Homo sapiens: one gene and its partner. The protein of the gene in region 2 interacts with the protein of the main gene of each other region in a pairwise test. Each region holds a gene or a part of one and is shown on either strand. Other genes may lie near its edges.

Evidence for each region. The genes of interacting proteins can lie anywhere in the genome.
Region 1: the proteins of CRYAA (region 2) and NOD1 interact in binary tests that used the Homo sapiens proteins (3 or more experiments, as listed by UniProt).

What each region holds. Positions count from the first base shown.
Region 1 is NC_000007.14:30,447,785-30,451,284, reverse strand, and holds part of NOD1 (nucleotide-binding oligomerization domain-containing protein 1), read left to right. Parts: coding exon 1-69; intron 70-208; exon of another isoform or gene 209-367; intron 368-2,903; coding exon 2,904-2,987; exon of another isoform or gene 2,988-2,993; intron 2,994-3,500. UniProt on the Homo sapiens protein: Pattern recognition receptor (PRR) that detects bacterial peptidoglycan fragments and other danger signals and thus participates in both innate and adaptive immune responses.
Region 2 is NC_000021.9:43,167,650-43,171,807, forward strand, and holds the start of CRYAA (alpha-crystallin A chain), read left to right. Parts: upstream 1-1,358; 5' UTR 1,359-1,450; coding exon 1,451-1,639; intron 1,640-2,586; exon of another isoform or gene 2,587-2,682; coding exon of another isoform or gene 2,683-2,760; intron 2,761-2,867; coding exon 2,868-2,990; intron 2,991-3,387; exon of another isoform or gene 3,388-3,933; intron 3,934-4,158. UniProt on the Homo sapiens protein: Contributes to the transparency and refractive index of the lens. In its oxidized form (absence of intramolecular disulfide bond), acts as a chaperone, preventing aggregation of various proteins under a wide range of stress conditions.

The DNA of each region.
Region 1 (3,500 bases), on a different chromosome or scaffold from region 2:
CAACAACAATCTCAACGACTACGGCGTGCGGGAGCTGCAGCCCTGCTTCAGCCGCCTCACTGTTCTCAGGTGAGGCTGCCAGGCAAGGGGAGCAACAGGTGGGCCGGGCGGGCCAGGCTCGGAGGGCATCGGGAATGGCATCATGGACCAGGATCCCCCAGGACTCATGACCATGGCCCTTGGAATGTCCAGACCTTTTCTTTCTTAGCAGGGCAGAGGTCAAGGTGCAAAGCTTCGAGGCAGGTGGACCTGGATCAGCCACAGCTGGGTGCCCTTGAACAAAGTGCTTAACTCTCAGAGCCTCCACGCCCTCATCTGGAAAAAGAAGATGCTCATAATCCTATCAATTATGGCCACAGGGACCAATGTTAGTTGAGAATGGGTGAAGTGCATTACAAATATTACCTAATGGAATGCTCTTTACAACCCTGTAACTTAGGTACTGTTATTGTCTCTATTTTGGCAGATAAGGAAGTAGAGGCACAGAGAAGTTAATAGCTTGCTTTAGGTCACACAGCTCAGACATAGCAGTGCCAGAATGCATAAAGAACCTTCCTTTTAAGATTAATGTAAGGCTCCGAGATAGCCCTCAAAAAGTTTCTGGAATATGGGAGCTTTTATTACTGCAGAGAAAGCAGACCTTGTGCCAGTTGGCACTGGTGACTTTCTGTGATCAACGCTAGCAGCCCTTCACACTGCTAGAGACCTCAGTTAAAATGCTGACTCGTGGTTGTTTTCCTGTTCCATAGTTTACGGGAAACAGAGCCCAGTCTGTTTTCTTCTATTAGCATTTCCTATGTAAAATAAACCTTGTAAATCTCTACAGGGGGTTAAATTTGCCATTACTTGACTCATGCATTTCTAAAAAGCAGTAGGGATTTGGAACTGACTCCCAGTGCCTGTCACACCAGTGTCAGAGTGTAAATAATTGCATGGGGACATGGGGTGCAGGGGGTCGAAGGCTGCCCTAGCCTGGGAATTGGAAAACCTGGAGTCTGTTCTCTGTACTCTCAGCCAGTGACTCTCCCTCTGTAGCCCCAGGCAGTCTCACACTCAGTGCCACCCTCTGTCCATCTTTTTTTTTTCTCCCCCAAATGGAGTCCCGCTCTGTTGCCCAGGCTGGAGTGCAGTGGCGTGATCTCAGCTCACTGCAACCTCCGCCTCCTGGGTTCAAGCGATTCTCTTGCCCCAGCCTCCTGAGTAGCTGGGATTACAGGCACACGCCACCATGTCCGGCTAAGTTTTTTGTATTTTTAGTAGGACGGGGTTTCCCCATGTTGGCCAGGCTGGTCTTGAAATCCTGACCTCAGGTGATCCGCCCGCCTCGGCCTTCCAAAATGTTGGGGTTACAGGCATGAGCCGCCGCACCCGACCCCTCTGTCCATCTTTTCAATGGGAAACTCCACACCAGTGTGGTGGCCCTGCCCTTCCTGCTGTCCCCAGGTGAAGCTTTCCTTCACACCAGTGCAAGAAAAAACAGCTTGTAGGAAAGCAGAGGATATGGGTAACCACGGGAAGCACACTCAGTTCTCTGGCTGCATCAGTTAGGATTAGTTTTAGCTGAGAGCGAAAACCCCAAATGTTGGTGAGTTACAAGCTTATTTCTCTCATGTAAAAGTCTAGAGGTAGGTAGTTCAGGACTGGTATGGAGTCTCCATGACCCTCCGGAGCCCAGGCTCTCTTCTGCCTTCCTGTTCTGCCATCCTCACTACCCGGCTTTCCCATCTTGGCCCAAGAGGGCTGCTCAAACTCCAGCCATCTAGTCGACACTCTAGCTATCAGTAAGAAGGAAGGGCAAAGATTGAGAGCATGCCTCAATCTTTTAAGAACACTTCTTGGCTATTACTAATTATATTGCTGCTTAGATTTCAGAACTTAATGGTATGGGCAGAATTTAATGAGATGGGCCCAGCTAAAAGATGGGGGAATCTATTGCTAAGAAAGTATAGATATTGGGAATGTCTAGCAGCCTGTGCTGTCTTGGGCTGGCCATGCCATGTACATACACACTATTTCCCAGCACCAAGCTGGGGACTCTGAGGGAAAGGGTCCAGAGTGTCTGACTTGATCATTTTGATGTGGCCTAAAAATCAAGCTTTTAATTGTTCAGCCTTTTACTTGTTATCAAGGTCAGCTTGTGGGTCTAATTGGGCCCAAGGCTTGTGTTTCTAAGTAAAGTTTTATTGGAACGCAGCCATACCCATTTATTTACTTACTGGCTGCTTCACACTACACAGTTGAGTAGCTGTGACAGAGACCACATGGCCCACAGAGCCTAAAATATTTGCTGTCTGACACTTTACAGAATGACATGAGCAGTCTCCTTTGACAGTGGGACTCACAGCCTTTTCCAGTGACAAATCAGGGTTAGCCCATGTGTTTCTGGATGGGGGGAAGCTGTTGGCATTTTGGGTATAACAGTTCTTGTGAGACCTGTCCAGCATTTTGCAGGACACCTAACATCATTGGCCCTGCCTGCAAGATGACAGGGCACTCCCTCCTCCAGTCACAACCACTAAAAGCAGCCCCTGACATTTCCAAACCCATGCCCTCCACCATACGAGAACCAGGTACAGGGTCTGGCTGACACATAGGTCACACGCAAAGGGTGGATGTCAGAGGTGGCTGGCCTCACACGTCCTCCCTGTGTCCTTCACGGTCGTGTGAGGAGCCAGGGGCTGTGCTGCAGCCTCGCTCATGGGCTGGTGCAGGATGGGTCTGGCGGCCCCACGTTGGCCAGGCTTTGTAAGGGGCTATTTGGCTGATTGCTGTGGCCATTCTCCAGGGGCGTCTATACCTGAGAAAACTCCAGGGCCTGAAGGCTTCTGGATCTTTGTAAGATTAATGGTCCTTCATAATGAGTGCCTGCCCTGACTCGTAATTTTTTTGCTGTTTTATTTCAGACTCAGCGTAAACCAGATCACTGACGGTGGGGTAAAGGTGCTAAGCGAAGAGCTGACCAAATACAAAATTGTGACCTATTTGGGGTATGTCTTTCTCCAGAACACTGGGCCAACTACCTAGTAATAATACAGAGCTGCAGGGAATTCACATTCCCATAGGTCCCTGGATGATCGGCACGGATGGCCCAGGGCTGGGAAGAGCGCTGGCCCAGGAGTTGAGAGTCCTGGGTTCTCTTTGTGGCTCGGCCAGTCATGAAGTCTTGCTGAGCCTCAGCCTCCTCACCTGTAAAACTGGGATCCCAGTATAGGCAAGTAGGCTTACAACTGGTTATTGGGGGATGCAACGAGAATATAAGGGGATATATTTAATAAATGCTAGAATCCTGTTTACATATTAGTCTGGACTATTTTGGGTCCATAATCCCTCATCCAGAGCCTTTGGGGCAAGACCCGAATGGGGATTCTGAGTGCATGCTATGGCATGACGTGGCCGCAGGGGTCTAAGGCAGTGCCCCATTTTCAAACACTTTCATATTTCTCCCGCAGAATGTATGAAACAGTCAAACCAAGTGTGGTAAGAAAGACTATAAGTAGCTC
Region 2 (4,158 bases):
CAGTTTACCAAAATATCAAAATACCAAAATATCAAAAGACTTAAAACTAGGAGTGAGCCAGGTGCAGTGGCTCACGCCTGTAATCCTACACTTTGAGAGGCCAAGGCAGGTGGGTCACCTGAGGTCAAGAGTTTGAGACCAGCCTGGCCAACACGGTGAAACCCTGTCTCTACTAAAAATACAAAAATAATAATAATAATAATAATAATAATAATTAGCCAGGTGTGGTGGCAGGCACCTGCAGTCTCAGCTACTCAGGAGGCTGAGGTGGGAGAATTGTTTGAACCTGGGAGGCAGAGGTTGCAGTGAGCTGAGATCGCGCCACTATATGATCTGGGCGCCACTCTGGGTGACACAGCAAGACTCCATCTCAAAAACAAACAAACAAAACCGGGAGTGCCTGGACACTTAGTGAGAACTGGACAGGGGCCATGGGTCGAGGAGCAAAATAATCACCAGGACTTGTGGATAACAGGATCATGTGGGTGGTGGGTCCGCATGGGTGACAGGGACGTGGGGACATGTCGCCACCCTGACAGGAGCAGCCCAACTCAACAGCCACGGCAGGTCATGCCACGGAGGCTCGAGGCGTTACGTGGGGATGTTACATCAAGGCATTACATCATTACGAGATGTAACGCTCGAGGCGTTACATCGAGGGGACGATGGCCATGGGGCTGGGCGTCCAGGGTGGGCCGCAGAGGGAAGCTCACCACGTGGTGCTCTCATCTGCCCACAGCCCAGCCCGTCTTCCTGTTGGAGGCATGTGACCCCTGGAGGACAAGCATGAAACGCCATAGGGCTCCCCCAGGTGCTGGAATTATGGCACCTTGCAGCTTCTTCTCCACGAGTTTTAACAAGCATGCGTACTTTTGTAAGTGGTGAGTGTAACGGAGGTTCACAGATGCACTCCGCTTTGGAAACCAGTGCACTCTTGCCCAGGCCCGGTGAGACTCTGAGGACGATGTGTCTAACCTCTGTGTCTAACGGGGGTGTGTGCTCTCCCTCCTCTGGCGACCATGAGGACCACCCCGGCAGGACAAGGTGTGCAGAGAACTAGCATGGTCCCTGGCACGTAGCCCCTGCCCAGTGACTGGCAGATGAGAAGCTCCATTGTCGCCCCAGGCGAGTATGGGGCACAGGCGCCTCCTTGGGTTGTCTGCCCTCCCGGGAGCCCCAGGGTGCCCAGGCGGGCCTCAGCTGAGTCCAGGCCTCGGGGACAGTCCGTGCAGCCCCTCCTGGGGCTGGGGGCGGGCACTTGTCCCAGCCACGTTTCTGCTGACTGAGCAGCCTTCTTCATGAGCTCACGCCTTTCCAGAGAAATCCCTTAATGCCTCCATTCTGCTGGTGGCATATATAGGGAGGGCTCGGCCTTGGCTCCACACTGCGCTGCCCAGAGGCCCCGCTGACTCCTGCCAGCCTCCAGGTCCCCGTGGTACCAAAGCTGAACATGGACGTGACCATCCAGCACCCCTGGTTCAAGCGCACCCTGGGGCCCTTCTACCCCAGCCGGCTGTTCGACCAGTTTTTCGGCGAGGGCCTTTTTGAGTATGACCTGCTGCCCTTCCTGTCGTCCACCATCAGCCCCTACTACCGCCAGTCCCTCTTCCGCACCGTGCTGGACTCCGGCATCTCTGAGGTAAGACGTGGCCCGTGGTGCTGGCCTCTCCTCGCTGCTCAGAGGGTGGTGGCCTCGGTGGGTGGAGAGCGATGGACTCTGGTCTTGCTCCGTCAGGCAGGTGGCCTCGTCCCACTTCATCCCCTTGCAGAGGCTGGGCGAGAGCCTGTGTCCCCACTGCAGCCACGTGGCAGAGCTTCCCCTGGCACTGGGGAGAGGGTGGACAAGGGAGCAGCCTGAATCCACCTTTGCTTTCCTCCATCAGCTCATGACCCATGTGTGCTTTGTAAGGCACCAGCCACATACTGGAAACCCCAAGAGCAGCCCATCCAGGCATGCGTGGTGGCGAATGCCAGCTCCCGGGTTCCTCTGGTCTCCTGAGTCCCGGAGACCTGGGAGCAGGTGGGGGTCATAGTCCTGAAAGCCAGAGAGCAGGGCGTTCCTAGCACCTCCTCCAATGAGCTCGGCCTGCCCACGGCTAGCAAAGCTCTTGGCAAGTTTACTTAGGTGCCCTGCCAAGGCTAAAAGGACAGGCAATGGACGCCCCCCCCCCCACCCAACCACAGGCCTCCTCTCTGAGCCACGGGTGAGCGGTGCAGGTTCTGCTGTTCTGGAGGGCCTGAGTCCCACCCAGCACCTCATAAACAGGGTCCTCCCCAGGGCTGCTGCAGTAGGCATCAACGCCAGGGTGCAAAATGCCTCAGGGAGCCAAGGCTGAGCCAGGGGAGTGAGAAGGAGCATGTGGAAGTGCGTTTTGGAGAGGCAGCTGCGCAGGCTGTCAGCAGGCTCCGGCCGCTTCTATAGACAGCATGACACCAAGGGCAGTGACCTCATTCCACAGGCTGAGTCCAGCCAGCCAGCCAAGCATCACCAGCCAGACGATTGACCCTAACGGACCAACCAACCCGTAACGACCCCTCCTACCATAACCAGTAGCCAGCCAGCCCATAACCAGCCAACTTATCTATAACCAGCCACCTGACCATAGCCAAACAACCAGCCGGCCCACCAGTAGCATTCAGCCCCTCAGCTGGCCCTGAGGGTTTGGAGACAGGTCGAGGGTCATGCCTGTCTGTCCAGGAGACAGTCACAGGCCCCCGAAAGCTCTGCCCCACTTGGTGTGTGGGAGAAGAGGCCGGCAGGTGACCGAAGCATCTCTGTTCTGATAACCGGGACCCGCCCTGTCTCTGCCAACCCCAGCAGGGACGGCACCCTCTGGGCAGCTCCACATGGCACGTTTGGATTTCAGGTTCGATCCGACCGGGACAAGTTCGTCATCTTCCTCGATGTGAAGCACTTCTCCCCGGAGGACCTCACCGTGAAGGTGCAGGACGACTTTGTGGAGATCCACGGAAAGCACAACGAGCGCCAGGTGAGCCCAGGCACTGAGAGGTGGGAGAGGGGGGCGAGTTGGGCGCGAGGACAAGGGGGTCACGGCGGGCACGACCGGGCCTGCACACCTGCACCATGCCTTCAACCCTGGGAGAGGGACGCTCTCCAGGGGACCCCGAATCAGGCCTGGCTTTTCCCCAAGGGAGGGGCCGTGCCCACCTGAGCACAGCCAGCCCCTCCCGGTGACAGAGGTCACCATTCCCGAGCTAATGTGGCTCAGGGATCCAGGTTAGGGTCCCTTCCCGGGCTGCACCCAGCCGTCGCCAGCTCCATCCCTGTCACCTGGATGCCAGGGTGGTCTTAGAAAGAACCCCAGGAAGTGGGAGTGCCCCGGGTGGCCGCCTCCTAGCCAGTGTACATCTTCACATGAACCCTACCTGAGGAAGCCAGTCCCCGACGGCATAGCTGCATCCGCTTGGAATGCTTTACAGGCATTGACACCTTCGCCTCACAGCAGCACTTTGGAACCAGTGTCCTCATTATTCCAGGGCACGGCTGGGGAACAAGGGGGTCCTCAGCCTGCTGGGTCCCACAGCTAGTACCGGGCAGGTGGACGGGAGCTTCTCCCCACAGTCACCCTGATGCCCCGCTCTTGCTCGGCTGGAGGCCTCGGATCTCCGTGGTGTTGAGGGAGCCGGGGCACTGGAGCCCTGGTGACCTGCATCTCCTGGCGGAGCCGGGAAGAGCTCATGGACTGTCACAGATGGACAGTGCCCCGCGGGGGCTGGAGAGCAGAGTGGGGCTGGAAGGTGGAACTCTTAGCCAAAGTCTTGGTTTCTTTTGGCCAGGGTCCTCTTTCAATGGCTGGAGAAGGTGGTGCTGGGGGGTGAACGCTGACCTCCTCATGTGCTGCCCCTCCCTCGCCTGGGCCCGGTAAAGCCCCCACGTAGCCCCAGCCAGCCTGGAACATGCTTCCTGAGCTCCCAGCTCTTGGTCTTTGCACCCAGTGGAGGAGGAGGTCAGCCCAGGGAGCTGAGTCTGCGGTTTAGGGCGTCCAGGGGACGTGGAAGCATGTGGGTCGTCTGGCCACATTAGGTAGGGCTGCAGAGACCTGGGCTAGAGCAGTCCTGCGGGGTCTGGAAGGGGAAGACTGGCTGAGGTGCGGGGCCTGGTCTGGAATGATCCTGCGATTTTGGAGTGAAGCCATG